Regions from separate parts of the Homo sapiens genome. Here region 1 is linked to region 2. Evidence: fine-mapped expression QTL. A gene starts in region 2. The other region holds a variant in brackets. All regions are shown on one strand. Distances are from middle to middle.

Region 1 (5,389 bases), 58 kb after region 2:
AGGTGACAGTTTCTCAGATTTTCTTTCCTTTTGATAAACTTAGCAGTTTTGAGTGGCATTATTCTGGGATTTTGTAGAATGTCCATCAATTTGGGCTTGTCCAGAGTATACATTTATGATGCACAATTTGTGAATCTGATTTACATGGAGGCAGTAGCATTGAACACTTTTCAAGAACAAGGATTTTGGAATCAGGCCTCCTGAGTCTGCATCCCATTTCCACTACCTACAAGCTGTGTGGCCCTTAACAACTATCTAATTTCTCTGTGCCTCAATAAAAAGGATCAATGACACTATCTATCTCATTGGATGGTTAAGAGAATGAGAGAAGATAATTCACATAAAGAATTTAGAACAGCAAATGGCACAAAATGAGTTCTCTATAAATATAGCTGTTGTTACTGTTGTTGTTGTTGTAAATATTGTTAAAATAAGAAATAGGCCTATCTCTTAAGGAGCTCATGGTCCGATGTGGGAGGCAGATATGTAAACATAAATTATCATGTTCATTGTCATAAGATATAAAGTCAGTGTTCTTGTTCCATTTTGTTTTGATTTTCAGGCAGTCAGTATTGGAGGTGGATTTTGCACTGATTAAGGCTTGGGATGTTGAAGCCAAGATACTGGATGTTCTTACGATGCTGGAATTGTATGGGGAATTTGTTTAGAACAAAGGTTTATATATCAAGGATATATGGGTGATACAGTTGGAGGAGGTTTAGCTGAGTGTGTTATTTACAAGCAGGCAAAAGTTGGAATGCTGGAAATGTTTGCAGATTTAGTTCATAGTGAAAGGGTTGATGGAGGATTGATGATACAATTGAAGGAAGCTCATCTGAATGCTGTTCACCTTTGTTTCGGGCCCTTTGGAGAGCACATTGAAAGTATGATAAACTTTTTGTTCTGTAGACTCATGCCCACTTCTTCCATATATCAAATTGATGCAAGTAACAGGCTATAGGAAGATTACTGGGTATTTGAAGAGGGGAATGGGAAGAAAAGACAGATCGGGGATTAAATAATGAAGAGAAATAAAGTAGACAATTTGGTACCTATCTCAATATCTACCTTCAGACAAAGGAAAGAATAGACTTTGTAAGTTTTTTCTTATGAAGCAAAAAGTAAGAATTCCTGCCCTGCTTTGAGGCATTCATGTAACTATTTTGGAGTCTACCTTAAGGTAAGTATTAAGAAATATTAAAGAAATACTAAGAAATATTAAAAGTCATAACGATTTGGATAAGTTTTATCAATATTATAATAAACCTTTGTTTCTCATACAATATATTTTTTTAACACAGGGTCTCACTCTGTTACCCAGGCTGGAGTGCAGTGGCATGATCTCAGCTCACTGCAGCCTCAACCCTCTGGGCTCAAGTGATCCTACCACCTTAGCCTCACAAGTAGTTGGGACTATGGGCACATGCCACCACGCATGGCTAATTTTTGTATTTTTTGTAGAGGCAGGATTTCGCCATGTTTCCCAGGCTGGTCTCGAACTCCTGGGCTCAAGCTATCTGCCAGCCTCGGCCTCCCAAAGTGCTGGGACTACAGGTGTAAGCCACCACACCTGGCTTCACACCTAATTTTTATAAAATTCTCACTGAGCCTGGAATTATAGCTCCAGTAGCTTTGTTTTCTGAATCACATTGTAACTTTACTGGTCTATTTCCTTTTTTGAGAAGGAGTCTAGTCTCGCCAGGTTGCAGTGAAGTGGTGCGATCTTGGCTCACTGCAACCCCTGCCCCTTGGGTTTAAGCAGCTCTCCTGCCTCAGCCTCCCTAGTAGCTGGGATTACAGGTGCCCGCCACCACACCCAGCTAATTTTGTGTATTTTTAGTAGAGATGGGGTTTCGCCATGTTGGCCAGGCTGGTCTCAAACTCCTGACCTCAGGTGATCCACCCACCTCGGCCTCCCAAAGTGCTGGGATTGCAGGCCTGAGCCACCGGGCCTGGCCTATTTCCTTTTCATAGCTTCCACAAAATGATTAAAGGTTGAGTCACTTCATATCTTCTTGATTCCACTTTTGCAATTGTACTGACTGAACAAGTTTTCCCTACAGTAATAGCTGAGCTACCTGGAACTATACTAATTATATAGTTGCATGA[C/T]GACTGATTTCCCTAATGATGGCTAGGAGTTACACGATCATTAAATATAGCCTCCATGTTTATATGTGTTTTGAAGTACAGTATTACCCCCTTATCTGTGGTTTTACTTTCCACAGTTTCAATTACCTTTGGTATAGTAAAATAAGATATTTTGAGAGAGAAAAAGAGAGATCACATTCACATAAGTTTTACTACAGTATATTGTTATAATTATTCTATTTTATTATTAGTTATTGTTGTTAATCTTTTACTATGCCTAATTTATAAGTTAACATTTATCATAGGTATGTATGTATATGAATAAACATAGTATATTTAGGGTTCAATACTATCCGTGGTTTCAGACATCCACTGGGGGTCTTGGAACATATCCCCTGTGAAAAAGGGGAAACTTCTGTATTTTTAAAATATTTTTTAAATGGTGTTACGTCATCAATAAATTCCTTGAGCTACTCAAGGATTTATCAGTCTCAGCACTATTTGGGCTAGATTAATCTTTGTTGTTGGGGGCTGTCCTGAGCATTGTAAGATGTTTAGAAGTATCCTTGGCCTCCACCCACTGAATGCCAGCAGCACACTTCACCCAGTTATAACAAGCAAAAGTATCTACAGCCATTGCCAAACCCCCAGGGGACAAATTCACCCCATGTGGAGAACCACTGAGCCAACTTATTATATACAAATCACTGCTGAGGAGCTATAATATAGTGGGTAGTGTGCTGGCTTTGGAGGCAGAAGACCTAAATCGAATTTCCAGCTCCACCCACAACTAGCTGTTTAATCATGGTTGAACTGCTTAATCTCTCTGGGTCTTAATCTCCTCAGCTGCAGAGTGGGCAGTGATAGTTTCTACCTGATGGCATTATTTTGAAGATAAAAAGGAAATAGGTATACATATATATTATGTACACACACACACACACATATATATATGCATGAAAAAAGGAGGATCTCAAAAAATATTAACTTCCTACCCCACAACTTTCCCTTAATACTAGGGATATTTCATTGACATGTCTATTGATTCATTCATTTATTATTCATTTAATAAATTTTTATTTAAATGAAAAAACATGGACTCATTGAAATTAAGCAGGGGATATTGGCCATGTGTTAAAAATTGGCCCTGTTAACATATATAGGTAGATTCAGAAACAGTAAAGCATGGGGCTGTGGAGTTTAATAGAACTGATTTTAAGACTAATTTGTACCATTTTTGTGAGATGGGGCAAATTACTTAAGTTTATTTATTTGTAAAATGCTGGTATTAATAGCATCTGCTGAGATATAATGATTAAATGAGGCAAGTGCCTGGTACATAAGCAAATGCCTGGTACATTCTGCACATGTAATCTATAAATTCCCAATGAGTGGTATGAGTAAGAGTCAGTATAGCTACAGAGGTCTTTGTGGAGGAGCTGGCATTTGAACTAAACTTCTAAAGATGTTCAGTATTTATGTAAATAGAAAGGACGCAAATGAATATTTCAAGCAAAGGCATAGATGAAAATGGAGGAGATCAGAATCTCTGGGACACAATATGTAAACCAGTTTTTGAAGCTGGAAGGTCATACTGGGAAACATTCCGTGTTGTTTAGGCAGATTATATGATGAGACTTGCAGAGCTGGGAAAGATCTTAAAGTCACCGAATCCAAATCGTTCATTCTGAAATGTTTCATTCTGAAAACAAAGGCCCAGAAACAGCAAGTGATTTTGCTGAAAGCCACTTAGTCTTTGAAAAAGTTGGTACTGGAACCTAGGATCACCACATAGACCCTTAGCCTCTCCTTGTCCTTAAAGAATACAGACAAAAACTATTACAAAAAAATAGAATGTGCAAACATTCTTCACTTCATAGAATAACTTACCCAAAGCCATACTTTATCCTATAGCTAAATAGAGAAGACTGGCAATCCAACAAGCACCTATTTATCGATGGTCTATATTCCAGACACTGGATACAATGCTGAACAATTCACATAAGGCCCCTGCTCTCATAGAGTTTCTATTAGAGAAAATATTCACAAATATATTACTTTTTTAAATCAAGAAAAAAATTAGCGATAAGTACTTGGTAGAAAATTAAAATAAGGTGGTATAATATAAAATGATTGGATGGCCACTTTGAACTGGAGGGTCAGGCAAGGCCTCTCTAAGTGGGACATGGGGCTTAGATCTGAATGACATAATCTTGAAATTCCGTAGGAAAGGCTTCCAGTCAGAAGGAACATCTAGTAAAGAAGCCCTCAGGCAAGGGTGAGCTTGTTACTTTTCAAAGTAAAGAAAGAAGGCCAGTGAGTCTGGATTTTAGTGGGCATGTAGAAAGAGAAGTGAAGTTAGATAGGTCAGCAGGGCTCTGATCATCTTGAGTTATTTAAGCCAGGATAGGGAGTCCAGATTTTATTCTAAGTGAATTGTAAAGCTACTGGAGTGTTTTATGCAGGAAGTGATCTGATCTGCTTTATCTTTTAGGAAGATCACTCTAGCTACTATTTGAAAAATGGATTGCAGAGGGGCAAGGAGACCAGTTATGAGACTATTGCACTGGTCCAGTTGAGAGATGATGGTGGCTTGGACTAAGGTAATGGATATGGAGAGAAGTAGAGTTATTTGAGATATTTTTTGGATGTATGGAGGACAGATGTTAGTTATACTTTGAAAATAAGAAAGAAGATAGGAAATTAGGAGGATTCTAGATTTCTGGCTTAAGTAACTGTGTAAGTCGTTAAGTTTGATTTACAAAGATAGTACCTATCAACTGCTGCTTTGAAGTCTGAGATTATCATATTGGCAAAACAGACAGAATTCTCTGACCTTTTGGAGATTGTATTCTACTGGATGATTCAAAAAATAAAATAAATAAGATATATATGTGTAGATGGTGGTAGGTCTTGGCATAGGATCTATTATAAATTGTGTGGTCAGATCTGGGAAGTCTTCACTTCCCAGTGAGGTCATTTCAAAGATGGGACCAGTTGAGATCACCAAGGAAGATGCAGGTAGAGAAGGAAGGTGCTTCTGCAGCTCTCCAGTATTTGAGGACTAAAAAGAAGAGACAGCAGGAGAAACTAAGAAGAAACAGTCATTGAAGTAGGAGGAAAAACAGTTAAGTGTGATGTTAGAGAAACCAAAAGAGACATTTCAAGAAGGAAAAAATGGTCAAGTCTGTTGGATATTACTAAGGGTTCACATAAGATAAGGATGGACGTGATCATTGGATTTGACAACATGGAGCTCATTGGTGACCTTGACAACAGCAATGTCAGTGGAGAGATGGGG
Region 2 (5,389 bases):
CTAATCTGTGCTTGACTCATAACAAGTACAAAGAAAAAGCAGTGGTTGATTATGAATCATAAGAAATCAGCCTGTGTGCCACTTTAGGAAATGTGAAATATTTTGAGGTAAACAAAAGTAAACCACGCTGCTTTACACGTTACATGTTAAAGCAGTAGCCCGAAATAATGAATATGTCTCTCTTTTACATATAACTGTATAACAAATATAATAGGTTCTAGGAAGAACCCTGTTTACTGTTTTAGAAAAATGTTTTCTGATAACTCTGTCTTCTGCTGCCATACTAATAATCCTTGAGTATGTTTAAGAAAGGAAAAAGAGAAGTTAGGAAATTGATAATTATCATTTATTAAGCACCTATTAAGTGTTTTACACAGTGATAAGCACTTCAGCTACCTAACTTCATATAGTCTTAATAACACAGAGGAAGATATTATTAGATCCATTTTACCTACAGAGCTTAGTGTTGGTACCCAAGATCACATATCTAAAAATTTGCAGAGCCAAGATTTAAAACCAGGTCAAACCTAGGCATTTGACTACTGTGCCATATATTTCGCATTGACAATTAATTATGAAGTATTGAGAGTTATTAGTGTTGAGAGTCCAAATAATTTTCTAGCTGGAAAAGATGAAGTTCCCTCACTTCTATATTATACAGTTGAAATATTGGTTTTTTAAAAAACTTCCTGAGAAGTGCAAAAAAGAAAACCTTTCTGAAATTACAAGAAAGTAAGTATCTTTTAAATTAAAAATTACTATATAGATTTAAAGTAGCTAATGTCTTAAATTAAGAATCGTATTTTGTCTTTTTCAAAATAGGAATCACTCTGAGGAGAAAATTGGATATTACAGAAGCATTGCAAAAAGAAAACACCAAACACAACAAAACCTAATAAATTGATAGAAACCCACCTTAATAGTGGTTATTCCAATGACCTTCATGGTATTTATGAGTATTGATTTTTAAAAATTTGATTAGAAATATTTAAATTATCAAAATGATACAAATTTCATTCAAATGACAGACACAAATAGAAAGCTAGTAATCTCCCCTCACTATCCTTCCCTGAGTAAACAATTTTGAGGTGTATCTTCACGTTTTTATATTTATATTAAAATAAACCAATATATAAAGAATATGTATAAGGCTAAGTTGTATTACATAATGTTTTCCATTATTCTACTACTATGCTCTTTAGACTTAAATATAATAGATTTTCTTCTAAGACAATAATTCAAATCTTAGTCAGTGATTCTCAACCCTTGTGCACATTAGAATTTCTAGAGGAGCTTGAAAAAAAGACATTGCCATAGCGCCACCCCCAGAGATTCTGGTTTAATTGGCCTGGGTGGGGCCTTGGCATCAAGCTCCCCGGTTCACTCTGATGTGTAGCTAGTTAGAACCACTGATTTAAGCAATCCAAACAGGCTACATGCCTGAATTGTCCTGGTATGTACGTTCCCAGGAAGGCCCTCTGCTGAGGTAACAACACCAGTGTTTGATTGGGAGAGCTCAGGGGGGCCCAGCTACAGTTTTAAGTCTCCTCTATAAGGTTGACTCTCAGATAGGAAATGTGTTTCATCTTAAAGGATGTTAGAGACAGTCATATGACTGCAAAAAGTGCTACTAGGGCCAGGAATTTCAGAGGCCATGTAAATGACAGTGTATTCTACTAGGCTGGGTTAATTCTGGGGATTAAGTTTGACTAAGTTCTAGAGATTTGTCCTTACCTGCAGATGGAGGCTTCCCTAATGGAGCATCATAGGAAGCCACACCCAGAACTTGTTTCTCCTCGTCTGGCAGAAGCACGTTCTCAGTGGGTGCAGAAACTTGTTTGGCTTCTCTTGGTCTGAGAGAATTTTCAAGCCGACCAACCAGCTCCCTGTGTCTGTACTGGTGAGCTCTTTACTAATAGTCAAACATTTGCATGCTCATTTAGTTTTCTTCACTCTTGTTGCACATCTGAGAAACACTTGAGAGAATGGAAGAGAGAGGCACAATATAGGAGAGCTGTGGAGAGTTTGGCCCCACTTTTTATATTTGTTTCAATGGGATAAAACAGGCAGCCAAGATTATTAGGTTTTGTTCTGAGTTATTGGTTCGGCCTTCACTAAATGGCTTTTCCTCTTTCCAAATTAGACATTTTGAGAAACCAGACAGGTTGTTGAAACTTATTTAGAAGTTTTAAAAAAAGTTGTGAATTTTAAGCAAACGGACCTTGGCAGGTGTATGGACAAAGCCACATTATCCTGAGTAAGGGAACGGAAGGGCAAGGTGTGAGGAAAACGACCAAATCAGAATTGTAATATTTTTCCTCATTTCTTTTCTAGTCATAAAAACAGTAACATTACATATTATTTATTTATTTTGTGGTAGGGTCTCACTCTGTCGCCCAGGCTGGAATGCAGTGGCGCGACATTTTTAGATTTGATCTCTTTTACCCTCCAAAAAATAATTGTCCAGTGTTCCACGTTTAGCTAAAACAGTGAATTGTTAGAATTGCAGCAAAACAATGAACCAAACCGTCAACCGCGAGCAACCTGTACTTGGGAGGTGAAAGTCAGAGGTGAGATTGTAAGGGCTCTGGGTCACTGGGGCATCTGCGCTGGGCAGAAGGGCAGCTCGGTCAAACAGCTGGAGCTGGGAGCCGGTCAGTTGCCAGGCCCTGCCGCTGCTACGTCACGGAGGGCGGGGCGGTGGGCGATTGGCGGTGCACTGCAGCTCGGGCTGCTCTGCAGCCTGGCGGAGACGGGAGGAGGAGCGGAGGGAGAAGTAGGTTGCGAGCTCAGCACAGGCTCCGGCGCTGGCTCCCGCAGCTGAGTTTGGGAGATGTCTAAGTGATTTTTTTTTTTTCCCGGAAGGCAAATGGCTGGCGTGGAAGCACAACCCGCTTTCACTCTTCGAATTTGTGCTTAGCTCTTTTCTTGTACCTTGCGACTCGTGACCAACATGCTGTGATGTGTGCCGAGGGAGGAATTGGTAAGAGTGAGACGGCGAATCCCTCTGACTGTCCCAGCCTTCTGCTTCACCGCCCACCCGCTTTTCCTTTCTGTTTCTCTCTCCTGTTTCTCCCCGCTCCACTTCCCTAGTCGTGTTTAGATTTGATGACATGGCTCAAAACTACAGTTCTGGGCTGTTACTGAACTAAAAAAAAAAAACAACAAAAGATAAAATGATTACACCATTTTCAATCATTTGTTAAAGGGGAATTTAAAAATCTATTTTAAATGCTGGATTTTGTAAAAAGGTAAACTGCACACGCGGGCGCACACGGGCACGTACATACACGCATTCTCACACACCTTTGTACACGCGGGCATACACGGGCACGCACACACACGCATTCACACACACACACACTCCTTTGTCATCCCGTTGTGAAATAAGCAGTTTAAAGAAATTTTGGTTATCTGCCTCAAAGGTGATGAAAAGGGAAGGTGTTGAAGATTTAGCCCAGCAGATTGATTCCTTAAGGTTGATTCCCTAAGGTTGATTCCTTAGGAAGAAAAAGGTGTTTGTATTGGAGCTTTCTCGGAAATAGTTTTCAAAGGAGTGCTACAAAGAAGCCCCCATGCTTCCCCCAAAACACTAACTTTAAAGAACCTAGTTGTTATTCGGGGCACCCTTTATTTTACGTTGTAAAACATGTAGTTTTAATTTACCACGTACAGCAGAGAGACATCAGTTGGTTAGGGAATGGATGGTTATTTTGGTGTCTGGGACCCTGTGCCTTTAGAAAGAATATGTTTTAACTGCTCTTATCATGCTAGCTCAGGTTTTTAAAATGTGATCTGAATAAGACCAAAGTTTCTTCTTGCGTTCTTTTCATGCTGGTTCTAAGCAGGGAGAAAAACAAGTCTGTATGGACAGAGCAAACCTCTAACTCAAAATCAACCTTGAGAGATGCATCAACAAGGACAGGGGCTCCTCATCCACCAATATTTACTTGTATCAGCCTTTAAATCATGTAGGTCACATTTCTGTGAAGAATAGCATCATCGAAAACCCTTGCTGACTTGTGAAGAGCAAAAATCATTGCAACGGAGTAGTTTGTTCAGTGCCCGCAGCAAGAACCTCCCACTCCGATCCACCTCAAAAAGTAATAACTGCTTCTTCTGGACTGTTTTCTATTCTCACTACAAATACGTATCATATACCTACATTGAGATAGTTTATTTTTATTAAAATGAGGTCATTTTATACATTTGGAAAAATAACTTAGCAACATTTTAAAGTTTTAGGGAGTTTAAAAATAACATTTAATTTTCATGCTAATTTAACATTCATTAAATTGCATGAAAAAGAGGGAAAATCTAAGCACTCTAAACTAGGATGTGGGGAGTGTTTGACCCTGGCTTAGCAAAACCTGAATACTTTTCATACTTAGTGACTAAATAGAATTGAATAGGGCCGGGCGCAGTGGCTCATGCCTGTAATCCCAACACTTTGGGAGGCCGAGGCAGGCGGATCACCTGAGGTCAGGAGTTCGAGACCAGCCTGACCAACATGGCGAAACCCGTCTCTACTAAAAATACAAAATTGGCTGGGCGTGGTGGTGCATGCCTGTAATCCCAGCTACTCGGGAGGCTGAGGCAGGAGAATCGCTTGAGCCCGGGAGGCGGAGGTTGCTGTGAGTCGAGATCGGGCCATTGCACTCCAGCCTGGGCAACAAGAGCAAAACTCCGTCCCCCAAAAAAAAAAAAAAAAAAATAGAATCTCATTTATTTTGCTATTGTCAGTAAAACGAAGGGAAATGCTCAAATATGATTATAATTTATAATAGAACAGAGGTGACTCACCTGTCAGACAAATGTACTTCCTATAATTGACTTTTTAAATTAAGGGTTAAAAAAATGTACACATATTCAAGCCTTCATTACATGTTTTCTTTATTGTCTGATATAGTTGGAAGTAGTTCTTCTAATGAAGAAGAATCAAAGAAAATGCTACAAGTAAGATTGTCTGAGAATTCTCACAGAACAATGCACTGATAAATATAAATTTAATAGTGCTTGAAGAAAAGGAGAATTGATTTATCAACTCTAGGAATAAATATATGTGTGCTGGATGCTATCACTATTCCTCGTCAGTTATTCCTTCGATATTTTCTTAGATAAATTTATTTCATTTCAGAAATCATTTTAGCCATAGAAACAATACTTTTTTATCGCTTTGCAGAATAAGGACTAACAGTGATGCTAGTTTTGTAAAAGAGTTGTGGCCTTAATGGAATTTTTTTAATGCTACTCAATAAAAGGTATATCAATACAACTATTTGAGGCAATTACGTGGTATTATGTATTAAAACCTGTGAATGTTGGGCCAGGCACAGTGGCTCATGCTTGTAATCCTAGCACTTTGGGAGGCTGAGGCAGAAAGATCCCT

Alleles and levels. Positions count from the first base shown, and alleles are read on the strand shown. Sizes are in standard deviations (SD) of each study's normalised expression.
In carriers of allele T in region 1, the expression in pituitary of the gene that starts at base 2,739 in region 2 tends to be higher than with C alone (small effect, 0.37 SD a copy in GTEx).

The links. PIP is the estimated chance that this variant, and not a neighbour inherited with it, causes the effect.
Region 1: its variant is fine-mapped to the expression of ATP10D in pituitary (GTEx, PIP 0.92).

The regions. Positions count from the first base shown.
Region 1 is chr4:47,540,821-47,546,209 of GRCh38, forward strand. The region is part of intron 9 of ATP10D (ATPase phospholipid transporting 10D (putative)); the gene reads left to right. Among named protein-coding and RNA genes, the nearest start is that of ATP10D, 58 kb to the left of the region's middle. The variant C/T (reference allele first, on the strand shown) is at 2,110.
Region 2 is chr4:47,482,537-47,487,925 of GRCh38, forward strand. It overlaps ATP10D (ATPase phospholipid transporting 10D (putative)), which reads left to right and starts at 2,739. Exons shown (of 23, transcript NM_020453.4): 1 at 2,739-2,983. RefSeq lists enhancers at 2,576-2,870, 2,842-2,911.